Homo sapiens: one gene and its partner. The protein of the gene in region 2 interacts with the protein of the main gene of each other region in a pairwise test. Each region holds a gene or a part of one and is shown on either strand. Other genes may lie near its edges.

Region 1 (7,000 bases), on a different chromosome or scaffold from region 2:
AATCCTCCCACTTCGGCTTCCTGAGTAGCTGGGACTACAGGCACCCATCACCATGCCCCAGCTAATTTTCAAAAATTTTTTTGTAGAGATGGTGTTTTGCCATGTTGCTCACGCTGATTTCAAACTCGTGGGCTCAAGTAAATCCACCTGCCTTGGCCTCCCAAAGTGCTGGGATTGCAGGCATGAGCCACCAAGCCAGGCCTTTATGAAATCGTAAATATTGATTTCATAGCAAATTGTCACTATACTTCAAATAGCACATCACTACAAAGTTTTGACGTAAATAGGTAAGAATAACTCAAAAACTGATCTAACAAGCAATTTGGCCACTAATTGAGAATGAAATCTCAGGAATGCAGATGTCTATGGTATTAATATAGTAGGAAAGAGTAATGGAAGACAAGTAACTTGGCAACTGATTTTCAAGTTAGACTTCGATTTAAAGCAGGTCTCAATCCGGGTTAGTAACACCTGGGGATTAAATTTTTCAACGTAAAGCAAATGAACCAAAATATGAGTGAATATGAAAATTACCAAGCTGTAGGGAATACATTGAAGAGGTTAAGGGTACAGGTTTTAGAATTAAAATCTGTTTGGTTTCCTACCACTTACTATTTATGTGATCTCAGTTTCCTATAAGGTAGGCATAATAATAGATTGTTGGTGGGATTCATCAGACACTTATATAGTGTCTGGTCCACATTTGTTAACTGCTGTTACTATCTTCAAATCATTACCTTTATTATGATTTGTATGTGGAACATCCTACTTGAACCATACATTTTGGAGCTCTTATAGGGATTGTTGTTGCTTCTCTATACTCTTTGAAATACTTTTGGATTCTAATTTTGTCCTGCGGAATGCTATAGGAAATATTTATCCAATACTTCCTATTTTACCTTATTTTTCAGATTATTAAACAATTTTATTCAATAAATATTTATATAGCATCCGCTATGTAATACTTGCTATTTTAGTTACTGTAGAGCTATTATCTTCCCCAACACTTGTTGCCTTTTTTAAAAGGAAGAATTACCAAAGAAATGTACTTTATGTATTAGCTTTTTAAAAAGTTTGTTATTTGTAAAGCCATATTAAATACTTTCTGAAGTACAATAGAGAACACATAAAAACATTGTCAAATGTAAAAAAAATTTGTCTTACCGTTCGTATCTTTCAGTTGAGATCTGCCTTTTCAGAGCATCATAATCTGTTTGTAACTGTGCCACTTTAGCTCGAAGCATGGTGTTTTCCCGGCTTTGACTAGTTCTTAAAAACAAATTAAAAAATCAAGAAATAAACGTTCCGTTTTGTAGAGTCAGGTGCTGTGGGTTTTTTAAATTAATAAAGAGAAGATCAAGACCTTTCAACAAGAATTCTCTAAACTTCTAGAGCTTTTATCACATTTTCTTTTTCATTCATTTAGTTTATTTATGAAACATGTACTGAACATCTATTATGTGCTAAGCACTAAAGCAATGCTAGGGATACAAATTTGAACGAGACATAAATGGTAACACCAAGATGTAAAGTGTCTTCATTGGCTCTTTCTTGACTCTTGCCTTGGAAAGAGAAATATTAATATTTTTAATACCTTTCAAAAGCTCATTCTTCCATGTGTACTCTACTCTGGGTTTCTTTCCCTCTTCCTACAAATATGTCTAAATCCTTCTATTCTAAAAATATGACATAATCAGTCTCTCCCAAAGTAATCAATACATGTATGTGGGTCAAATCTCATAGCCTTTTTAGAGTCCTTTTTCCTAATCTACAGCATAAGACACAGCCACCTCTTCTTCTCCCGAGAACACTTTCTCCTTCACTGACTCCTCTGTCCATTCCTCAACTGTAGGCGCTTTCCTAACGTTTTCTCTTCTCATTACTCCCACGGTACAACCTCTGTAGTGAAGATATACAGGTCTGCACCTCCCAACACGATGTTTCTCCCGAGTCAGTCTCCTAAATTTCCAAAAGCAGCAGATGTATAAGCCAAATATTTTGGTTTTGGGACAGCGTCTCGCTCTGTCGCCCAGGATGGAGTGCAGTGGTGCAATCTCGGCTCACTGCAACCTCCACCTCCTGGGTTCAAGTGATTCTCACGCTTCAGCCTCCTGAGTAGCTGGGACTATAGGTGTGTGCCACCACGCCTGGCTTTTTTTTTTTGTATTTTTAGTATAGACGGGGTTTCGCCATCTTGCCCAGGCTAGTCTCAAACTCCTGAGCTCAGGCAATCTACCCGCCTTGGCCTCCCAAAGTGCTGGGATTACAGGTGTGAGCCACTGCACCTGGCCTATCTTTCATACTCTTAACCTTTCCTCCACTTCAAAAAAATTAAAAAACTATCCTTCACAAGCAATTGTCTTTGCATAAGTTGACTTAAGACACTTACAATTTGCTTTCAGAAAGGGTTAACTTCTCCTTAAGTAGCTGGATTTCTGTATCCTTCTCGTGGGAGGTTAAGTGAGAATGAAATTCTTTATCTCTGTTTGTAGCCAACAATGATTCGAGGTTTTTAACTGTATGTCTCTCATTTGAAAGTTGTTTTTTCAGTAGGTCTGACTCTGACTTTACATTTTCTAATTCCACCACAACCTACGTGAAAAACAAAGTAAGATTACTTCAGTACAATTTTAAACTTACTCTGAAAAAATTATTTATCTGACAATATAGCTCTGTGGAACTATTCACCTATCACTTGTTTCATTTTGGGTATGGGTTAAAGATTATGAACTGTTTCTTTAAGTATAAGAAAGACACTTTATTTTCAAAATAATCTTTGCTATTTTTACTATGGGCTTATTTGGCTATAGGATCTACTCAAATCCTCAAATAATTTTTAGTCATGGTACCTTATCAAGAGACGGTCATTAAGATAAAACCACAAGGGCAATGAGACCCTTCTGGTTGAATATGCTTACTCTGACTACATAATCAAGCCAGTATTATAGTTTCTCAGTACCTGAAAATAAAGATACTACTAGATGAGTGAAAATTGAAAACATCCATGTTTGAAAACAAACACTAGGTTATTTAAAGTAATGCCTCCATCTGGGAAAGGTAAATTCTAGCTAAATAGACTTGTTTAATTAAGATTTAAACACCTTGAGATTTTTATCGGGAAAAATATTCTACTTCGGAAGCACTGAACTGTTCAATCCTTCATTCAAGTCTTACTTTTTTTTTTTGAGACAAGGTCTCACTCTGTTGCCCAAGCTGGAGTGCAGTGGCACAATCTCTGCTTACTGCGGCCTCGACATCCTGGGCTCAAGTGAACCTTCCCTGCCTCAGCCTCCCGAGTAGCTGGGACTATAGGCACATGCCACATGCCTGACTAATTCTTTGTATTTTTTGTAGAGACGGGGTTTTGCCATGCTATCCAGGCTGGTTTCAAACTCCTGAGCTCAAGCAATCTGCCTGACTCGACTTCCCAAAGTGTTGGGATTACGGGTGTAAGCTATCGTACCTGGCCTCAAGTCTTACTTTTAAACAGAGAAAGAATGTATTAGGATATGCTGATTTATAATCAGAAAATTCATAATCTCCTAGATAGCCATCTATTCCAAAACATTACCCACTTTCATCACTACGTTTGCCTGAGAAATCTTGCAAAGAATCAAGCAGTCAAATCTGGTTGTCAAAATCCTGTAGTCAAAAGTAACTATTGTAGGCTGGGTGCAGTAGCTCATGCCTGTATCCCAGAACTTTGGGAGGCCAAGGCAGGCAGATCACGTGAGGTTGGGAGTTTGAGACCAGCCCGGCCAACATGGTGAAACCCCATCTCTACTAAAAATACAAAAATTAGCCAGGTGTGTTAGCAGATGCCTGCAATCCCAGTTACTCAGGATGCTGAGGCATCCTGAGATGCCTGAGGGAGAATTGGTTGAACCCAGGAGGCGGAAGTTGTGGTGAGTTGAGATCGCACCACTGAACTCCACCAGCCTAAGCGACAGAGCAAAACTCCATCACAAAAAAAAAAGTAACTACTCTAAAAGGAAACAAGTATATGCATGGTGTGGTGAATACTAAAGTAAAATAATTAGAGTAGGGCTCAATAAAACAATGTGCCAAGACAATTTATCTTTCTTACCCTCTCAAACTCAAGGTTTTTCGAATTCAATTGCTGGGTCATAATATCTTTGCCTGAATCAAGTTTAATGCAAAGTTCTCTAAGAGATGACAAGTCATTTAATACTGTTGCTTTCTCATCTTCTTGATGTCTCAGCTCTTCTTCTAATCGAGACATGGCTTTTGCCATTGATGAGATCTGAGATTCATAAGCATGATGGGCATTTATGTGCTGAAAAAAGAAAAAGAAACAAGTAAAAAGTTAAAATAACCCAATAATTTTAAGAACTTGAATTTGTACAGCCAACAATCTCACTTTAGAAAAATATGACAGCCAATTTTTGCTTATTTTAAAATACTCTCAGGAAGCTGCCTACTATTTAAAGATGACCTATTTAATGCTTAACAAAATGAATTGTGTATAATTATTAATCATGGTAACTGAGTATCTCATGTATATATTTATATATTTGGAAATGTAAAAAAGAAAGTTATTGTATCAGGGTGTTGTGAATATGAGGGATTTTTGAGGTTGCATTAAATTTTTCCTTTAAAAATTATCTTTGTTATAATAATGTCATTTCAAGAAAAAGTAATATATATACATATCACTCCTCAACTGTCTTCAGTTAAATTCTAAATTCCAAAAATGGGGTTTACTTCAAAACTATATACCTGGATAATTTAAATTTAACTTAAATAAATAGTAAACAACTTTAATATTTTAATAACTGAAATAATGAAAAAAATTTCAAATAATGATAAATTTTTTTTTCTAGAAGAATCCACAGTTGAAATTTCTCACAATTTGAATTATGAGTAATAAATACAAACTGATATAAACTCTACTTCTAGGTTTTGGGGAGAATTCTGCATTGAAAAATAAAATTATTGCAAGAGGCTATTAAAACGGCTGGGTGGCTCACGTCTGCAACCCCAACACTCTGGGAGGCTGAGGTGGGAGGATCACTTGAGCCCAGGAGTCTGAGACCAGTCCGGGAAACATAGTGAGAACCTGTCTCTACCAAAAAATACAAAAATTAGCTGTGTGGTGGCACATGCCTATAGTCCTTGCTACTTGGGAGGCTGAGGCGGGAGATCACCTGAGCCCACGAGTTCAAGGCTGCAGTGAACTGTGGTTAAGCCATTCCACTCCAGCCTGGCCGATGGTGCAAGACCCTGACTCTTAAAAAAAAAACTCCACAAATCCACATTGAAAATCTAATATTGTGCTGTGAAGATTTAATCAATTTCAAAAATTGCAGAAAAGTATTTAGATTTTTTAGTGCATTAATAAAAGCTCCCCTAAACAAATATAATACTTTAGTATTGTATTGTGAAATTGGCTTATACTTTAGTAACAGCCAATTTCATATACCACATACGAACATGAACAATAATAAAGAACAAAATAATTGAAGATTAGTTGAGAACAGTTGCTGAAAAACTCTTTTGAAGGTTGAAAGGCACTCCTTTAATTAGTTATTATACCCTTCTTAACAGAAAAACTTTTAGAGATAGTGTATTAGTTCCCTAGGGCTGCCATAACCAACTACCACAAATTAGGTGTTTTAAAAAAACAAAAATTCATCCTTTCACAGTTCTGGAGGCTGGAAGTCCAAAATGTGGGTGTTAGCAGGGCTGGTTCTTCCAGAGCTTCTATGGGAGAATCTGTCCCATGCCTCTCTCCTAGCTTCTGGTGGATGCTGCCAGTGCTTGGTGTTCACTCACTTGCAGACATATCACTCCAATCTCTGCCTCCATCTTCACACAGCCTTCTCTGTACGTACTGTATCTAAATTTCCCTCATCTTTGAAGGACACCCATCATTCACTAGGTTAGGGCCTGCCTTAATCCAGCACAACCTCATCTTAACTTGTTCACATTTGCAAAAACCCTGTTTCCAAATAAGGTCATGTTGACAGATACTGGGGATTAGGATTTCAACGTATCTTTCTGGTGGACACAATTCTCCTACCCTCTGATCCCCCAAAATTCATGTCCTTCCCATATACAAAACACATTCACTCCATCCTAACATTCTAGCATCAACTCTAAACCCAAAATCTCATCTAAGCATCATCTGAATCACATATGGGTGAGACTCTGAATATGGACCACACTGGGACAAAATTCTCCTCCATCTACAGACCTATGACACTGGAAAACAAGTAAACTGCTTCCAAAATAAAATGGTGGGATAGGCATACCATAGAAGTCCCACTGTAAAAGGGAGAAAATAAAAGGAATAAAGGAGTTACTAGTCCAAAGTAAGTCTGCAACCAAGCAGGCTGAATCCATTAGATTTCAAAACCCAAAAATAATCATTTGTGCCTTCATTCTCTGGTGCTCTGTTCTCTGAGCCAGCCAGGGGGGCCCCACCCTGTGTCCCACAGGGGCAGTGGCCTTGCCCTCTGAAACCAAGCAGACAGACAGTAGCTCCATCATCTGGACCTGTGATGTCTGGGCTTGTGGTGGTAGCCACAGCCCCACCAGCCTCTGAGTTGCCCTTGGTGGCCTTGCTGGTCTCTGAGCTACCCTTAAGAGTCATTCTGTCCTTTTCTTGAAGGTGAACTTGCAGCCAACTAGCTCTGTTGGTCTGTCTTCTGCTAGTAGGATCCCAGAAGTCCAACAACCTTCCTTCTTTTCATCCCATTTCTGTTCCTTTCAGTCAAAGCTGGAAGTGATTCTGCTGAGATGATTGATTGGATTCATGAGTCACATATCTAATCTCTTCACCAAGAGGTTTTCTAGCCATACTCTGGAGCACACTATCTGGATAGGCTAAGAATTTTCCAAAATCATCAAGTCCTGGTTTATTTTTTTTTCCTTTTTTTTGAGACAAGGTCTTACTTTGTCACCCAGGCTGGAGTGCAGTGGCATGATCTCGGCTCACTGCAGCCTTGACCTCCTGGGCTCAGCCCCCCAAGTAGCT
Region 2 (7,186 bases):
AGGCACCTGTAATCCCAGCTACTCGGGAGACTGAGGCAGGAGAATCACTGGAACATGGGAGGCGGAGGTTGCAGTGAGCTGAGGTTGGGCCACTGCCCTCCACCCTGGGTGACAGAGACTCAGTCTCAAAAAAAAAAAAAAAAAAAAAAGAAAAGAAAACCAAAGTACAATAAATATCTTTAACATACTTACTGAAAGCAAAAAAAACCTGCATGCTCAATTTATTTGCTTAGAAAGATTATGAAAACTGGCTGGGCGTGGTGGCTCACACCTGTAATCCCAGCACTTTGGGAGGCTGAGGCGGGCGGATCACGAGGTCAGGAGATCGAGACCATCCTGGCTAACACGGTGAAACCCCGTCTCTACTAAAAATACAAAAAATTAGCCAGGCGAGGTGGCAGGCGCCTAGTCCCAGCTACTTGGGAGGCTGAGGTAGGAGAATGGCGTGAACCCGGGAGGCAGAGCTTGCAATGAGCCGAGATCGCACCACTGCACTCCAGCCTGGGCGACAGAGACTCCGCCTCAAAAAAAAAAAGAAAGATTATGAAAACTAAGCAACAAAAAAAATCATATCATGCAACCTGAGGAAGCCCCTAAGATTCAAAATTTACTAAAATGAATGTCTGTGCACTATGAAGCAAATCCTAAGCATATTAATGGATATAGTTTTTCCTAAGCATACATAATGGATACAGGAAACAATGTGCAGATTGCATATCACTCATAGCAAAAATAGGTCATCATTATAAAGGCTATGAAACTAGAATGTTATTTGGTGAATACATCTTTATATAACATGTTGTCATTGCAAAATAGTAAACACCATCCTATTTGCTTCCCTAATCAGTATGCTAAACAGAAATTTAAGACTTCCATTAAGTTCTTAAATTACAGAAGCATTAAAACCTTGTTTTCCCTAAAAGTTAACGAAGAATTATAAGACAAAGAACACACCCAAACCAAGAGAATGAGGAAGGGAATGATAAAATCGGAAGGTAGCCCACCTGCATGAGAATTATTTTAAATATTAACCACTCATCAGAGTGCCTTGAAGTGATGATTCTGTGCCTCTAGATAATTCTAGAGCCACATGAAAGATTTCATTTCACCTTCCCTCTCTTTCCCCACCATAACACTCACCATACTCAGTTCCCGTGTTCTCTTCCCGATTTCCCTTTCCACCTGGTGCAGTTCCAAGCTCAACTGCTCACTTGAGATCATCCCAGGCCATTTTGGAGGTGGCGGTGGTGGGGGCTGTGACTGGCCTGCCAGGGTGTTTGCCTCCCTCTGCAACACCAGCCTGTTACTAACAGCCTAGTGCATAAAGCCAAGCACACAGAAAACTCAACACACTTCACACCATGCACAGAATAACCAGGCTCAATTCCAGACCACAGCCTTGAGTAGCTTATCACCCAGCCATTTGCAACAAAATAATGCAACTGTAAGGTGCTGTTCTCTTTGAGTACCATTCAAACAAAAAAATAACAAAATAGGGACATTTAAATTTAGTAAACAGTAATTTCATCTTATGTATAAATTGCTCCTTGTATTTTCTGATTTGAAAGAGAAGTTGGCTACGCATGGTGGCTTGTGCCTTTAATTCTAGCACTTTGGGAAGCTGAGGTGGGAGGATCACTTGAGGCCAGGAATTTGAGATCCACCTGGGCAATATATCAAGACCTCGCCTCTACAAAAAATAAAAAATAAAAAAACCAAAAAATTAGCCTGGGATGGTGGTGTGGGCCCGTAGTCCTAGCTACTAGGGAGGATCACTTGAGCCCAGGAGTTTAAGATTACAGCGAGCTGCTATGATCATGCCACTGCACTCCATGCACTCCAGCCTGGGCAACAGAGTGAGACTTTGTCTCTCAAAAAAAAAAAAAAAAAAGGAAATGGAAGAAAAACAAGTCAACTACAGATGTGCATCTTTCCCCCTCTGTTTTTAATGGTAATTTTCTCTGAAGTAAATCCTATAACTTATTTCAATGAAACCTCAGTAATGGCAAGGACTTTTAACTGTACTGAGTTAAATATGTGGCAAGTTTCTAAATAATACTGATAGTCTTTTTGGACAGAAAATGCTCCTGGAAACTTTAAAACAAAAAATCATGCATGTGGTGGGGGGAAAGCGGAGGGATAGCATTAGGAGATATACCTAATGTAAATGACGAGTTAATGGGTGCAGCACACCAACATGGCACATGTATACCACATGTAACAAACCTGCACGTTGTGCACATGTACCCTAGAACTTAAAGTATATAAAACAAACAAACAAACAAACAAAAAACCATGCATTTGAAGATATGGAGTAATGCCTTATTGGGTTGAAGGTCTGAATCTTTAAAAAGTTAATGAACGAAAGATTGCCATAAGCAAACATGGCATTCTGTTTCTATGACAGGAATCGGCAAGACGTTCTGAATCAATGTAAATAAGCAATGGCGAAAGCAGACAAAATCTAAGTATTACATAGATTTTTAAAATTCCTAAATCTAATTGCGTACATAGGGGCACAAGCCAGCTATATGTTCCAAAAACAATCTCCTACTGGTCTTCCTAAAAAGAAAGTCTACTAAGAAAGTCTGTCTTATAACTTTTTTTCCCCCCTAAAGTGATGGCTTACTTATTATTAAAGATTATGGTAGAAAGACAGACTAATGTTCTAACAGTACCATTTTTTCCTCCAGAAAGGACAATATATTTATCATTAGAATGTCTTCAGTTTTCCATATTCAAAGAATATGTTCCAACGTAAAGGATGATGTATAAACAAAACCTAGTCTTCCTTATGTGGCACTTAAAAGATTTTAAAAATTCCTTTTTTTTTTTTTTTTGAGACAGAGTCTCACTCTGTCACTCAGGCTGGAGTGCAGTGGCACCATCAGGGCTCACTGCAGCCTCAACCTCCCTGGGCTCAGGTGATCCTCCTGCCTTCAGCCTCCTGAGTAGCTGAGACTACAGGCGTGCACTACCATGCCTGGCCAATTTTTGCACTTTTTGTAGTGAAGGGATTTTGCCATGTTGCCCAGGCTGGTCTCAAACTCCTGAGCTCAAGCAATCCATCTGCTCTGGCCTCCCAAAGTGCTGGGATTACAAGCATGAACCACCACGTCCAGCCAGATTTTAAAAATTCTTTAGTTTTGTTTTTCTAAGTGTCAGGCAGCATGATGGAAAGAACACTGAATCTGGAGTATGAAGACTTGGGTTCGTGTTTCAACTTCTGAGAAACTCATATACTTCAATCAAAAAAGGAGGACAATACCACCTGCCTAAAATATCAGGGATATTCTAAGGGTCAAATAAGATAAGTGGTAGTGATTTTTAAATGGTACAGAACTACGTAAATGAAAAGTGTTATTATTCTTATTACACCGGAACTATGTTTTACTTTTTAAGTCAAAGTTCTGTTTTTTTTTTTGAGACGGAGTCTCACACTGTAGCCTGGGCTGGAGTGCAATGGCGCAATCTTGGCTCACTGCAACCTCTGCTTCCTGGGTTCACACGATTCTCCTGCCTCAGCCTCCTGATTAGCTGGGATTACAGGTGCACACCACCATGCCCGGCTAATTTTTTGTATTTTTAGTAGACACGGGGTTTCACTATGTTGGCCAGACTGTTCTCAAACTCCTGATCTTGTGATCCACTTGCCTCGGCCTCCCAAAGTGCTGGGATTACAGGGGTGAAACCCTATCTCTACTAAAAATACAAAAAATTCGCTGAGTATGGTGGTGTACATCTATAACCCCAACCACTCAGGAGGCTGAGGCAGGAGAATTGCATGAACCCAGGAGGTGGAGGTTGCAGTGAGTTGAGATCACGCCACCTCACTCCAGCCTGGGCAACAGAGCAATACTGTCTCAAAAAAAGAAAACCAAAACAAACAAACAAACAAACAAACAAAAAAAACCTTAAATGTGCCATCAGGGAATATAAGCTCCTGTTGGGAAATTTTACGTAATCTGTTTTCTATTTTTAGGTAGCAGAAATTTTACGTTTTCTGTTGTCCCAGAGCTAAATCCAGTATTGAATTCTTTGAAGAATAGAAACCTATACTAACTCCTAAGAAATAGACCTTAAAGTTTTTTGTTCACAGTGCCTCAAAAGTTCCTATTTAAAATCTCTGAGAACCCTTCAAAAATTGGAATAAAATGGCTCTCTAGGCTGGTACCTCTAGTCCACGTAGCTGGGTCTGCTGGCTAATCTGATGGTTCAATTGCTGCAATTCTAGTCGTAGCTGTTCTCTCTCAGCAGATGGAAGGGGTTTTCCATGACTGGCCACTTCTGACATAGATATTCTCTCCCTTTGGTTAGAAAGAAAGTGTGAATCAAATTTTAACATTTCATTTTGTTAACATATTACTGACCAGAAAAACAAAAAGAAGTTGCCTAATTTTAAAGGTTTCTACATGTTTGTTCAAGTAAAAAGAATGACTCATACCTCTCACTGAAGTGTCCCTGAGAAGGTATGTTTTGATGAGGTGAATATGGAGAAGCTCCCCAGCCACCGTGGGTTCCATATGGACTATAATCTGTAAGAGAATGATTTATTATGGTATAATTCACAGATTTGATTCTTCTTTTAAGGTATTCATAATCTGAAAGACATCAGCGTATTGCATACACAGGTATCTGGTATCTACCCTAAATGTCCAGATTTTTAAAATTCTTTAACTTTGTTTTTCTAAATATCAGGCAGCATGATGCTGGGTGCTGATATATGTTTGTTTCTTCCCCAATGAACTTTCAGTCTTTGTAGTTTTTCTTCCAAATTACTGTATAATGAGAATGTTATTCCCCCAAATAACAATTAAGCTATTTGGGGTGGGGGTGGAGTGGGGAAGAAACATTAGGAAAGCTTCACATATAGACATTTAATTTCAGTTTATATACCTAAAATTCTCTGGGTTATATTACCTTTCTTACAGGGATGATTCCATGGAAAGTTTGAAAATTACTGCCTTGCAAGATTACTAAAAACACTGATAGTAAATGGAGAGCAGGGGTAATGCTGAAAGTCAAGATTATGAACCCTTTAGGTCAGCTTACCTCTGAGATTCTTACCTGAAATGTTAATAGATTTTGTAGGAGCTCCCTGAGGTGCCATAGCCTGCATTGGACCAGCACCCTGATATATAGTTTTGGAAGTTCGTGAGATGGCACCAAACCGAGACACTGTTGGTCGGTCTCCAAATGGGATGAGGTCATCATCACTGGTTTCTGCTGCTCTTCTCTGAAGATCTAATCGCTGGTCCCTCATTCCTTTACTCTCCACATTCTGATAAAAAAGCAAAATGAGAAATTACCCCACACTCAGATCGCTCTGTAACCTAATTTTTTCTAGATCTGTAATAAGGTTAAAGAAGAGTACAGCACTCTTACTGGTAAGACTAAAATCATTAGTTACCTTTGGTTGTTTTTATGTAACACTGGTTTTTAAACCTCTGAGGTGAGGGGCGACAGGGTCTCACACCGTGGCCCAGGCTGGAACGTAGGGGCACTCTCATGGCTCACTGCATCCTCAACCTCCTGGGCTCCAGTGATCCTCCCACCTCAGCCTCCTAGGTAGCTGGGACTACAGGCATGTACCAGCACACCCAGCTAATTTTTTTTGATTATTTATAGAGATGAGGTCTCCCTATGTTGACCAGGCTGGTCTCAAACTCCTGGGCTTAGCTTGCCTCAAGCTCAGCCTCCCAAAGTGCTGGGATTACAGGTATAAGCCACTGCACCTGGCCTAAGAAATATATTTTTAAAATTTATGGGAGGCCACTGTTTTGGACTAAGCTCCCGCACTAAGCCCCAAGACACCAGATCAAAGCAGAATGTAATCACTTATGCTAGATGCCACAAAATCAAACTGAACTTGAAAATGGGCCAGTTTTCCAAAAAACAGGAGATTCACAGCAATCAATCATAAGAGGACCACTCAATTTGAACTGGTAAGTCCCTTCTGCTTTAGTCCTATAAGGAAAATAACTTTGAAACAACTAATCTGAGTTTTGTTCCTTTTCTCTGTTTAGCTCATTAGAGCATCTTTCTATTTCACAGATGAAATGCTTCCTGATTAATCAATCACTAATAAAAGCCAATTCAATCTTGAAGAAATATATATATATATATAATGACCTAGTATATATATATGCATACAAATATATATTTATCCCTATATAATGTTACACATATATATAGACACACAAATATATAGTTTGTATGCACATTAACATTTGAGAAATACTAGGTTAGACTTCTTTCACCTATTTGGGAGGTTTTCAATTACCTCTAGATTGGATTGCAACTTTTTGTTTGTTTGTTTTTGAGACAGGGTTCTGCTGTCACCAGGTTGGACTGCAGTGATGTGTGAGCCTCAACCTCCTGGGCTCAAGCGATCCTCCTGCCTCAGCTTCTCAAGTAGCTGGGACCGGCGTGCACCACCACACCTGGCTAATTAAAAAAATTTTTGAAGAGATGGGGTCTTGCTATGTTGCCCAGGCTGGTCTTGAACTCCTGGGCTCAAACAATCCTCCCACCTTGGCCTCCCAAAGTGCTGGGGTTACAGGTTTGAGTCACCATGCCTGGCCCAAACTTTTTAATTCTTTACTGATTTAAGAAAATGAGTTTTATTTTGCTAATACTCGTGTTACTTTAATATAATAACCCTTTCCTTTTGAAAGCCAAGTACAAGGCAAAGATTCCTGCCTAATTTCCCCTCATTTCGTTCCAATAAGAGCCTTACTACAGCCTAAAAACAATGCTTCTGTAATTCTACTGCAAAAAAAAAAATTTTATTTTGCTTTTTCTTCCTCTAAAACTCTCTATTTTTTTGGGGGGGGGGGTGGGGCTGGCATATAATTGTATTTATGCTATTAGATATCACTTCACTCATTTACAGTGGTTATCAGCATCCAAATCTTTTTTTATTGCAAATATTGGTCTTTTCTTAACCACCTGGAAAAGTATTTATCTATGAAAATCTATATAATAACCTAGGAAACCTCTGTTAGAGTTAATAAGGACAAATGGGTTAAGAATAATAGTGAAGGCATACCTTTCAGCAATACCATTTCTTTTTTTTTTTTTCTGAGATGGAGTCTCACTCTGTTGTCTAGGCTGGAGTGCAGTGGCGCAATCTCGGTTCACTGCAACCTCTGCCTCCCAGGTTCAAGCAATTCTCCTGCCTCAA

What was found. The genes of interacting proteins can lie anywhere in the genome.
Region 1: the proteins of RC3H1 (region 2) and CEP135 interact in binary tests that used the Homo sapiens proteins (3 or more experiments, as listed by UniProt).

Annotation. Positions count from the first base shown.
Region 1 is NC_000004.12:56,014,945-56,021,944, reverse strand, and holds part of CEP135 (centrosomal protein of 135 kDa), read right to left. Parts: intron 4,298-7,000; coding exon 4,088-4,297; intron 2,593-4,087; coding exon 2,390-2,592; intron 1,270-2,389; coding exon 1,165-1,269; intron 1-1,164. UniProt on the Homo sapiens protein: Centrosomal microtubule-binding protein involved in centriole biogenesis. Acts as a scaffolding protein during early centriole biogenesis.
Region 2 is NC_000001.11:173,942,302-173,949,487, forward strand, and holds part of RC3H1 (roquin-1), read right to left. Parts: intron 5,282-7,186; coding exon 5,068-5,281; intron 4,536-5,067; coding exon 4,445-4,535; intron 4,308-4,444; coding exon 4,175-4,307; intron 1,315-4,174; coding exon 1,141-1,314; intron 1-1,140. UniProt on the Homo sapiens protein: Post-transcriptional repressor of mRNAs containing a conserved stem loop motif, called constitutive decay element (CDE), which is often located in the 3'-UTR, as in HMGXB3, ICOS, IER3, NFKBID, NFKBIZ, PPP1R10, TNF, TNFRSF4 and in many more mRNAs.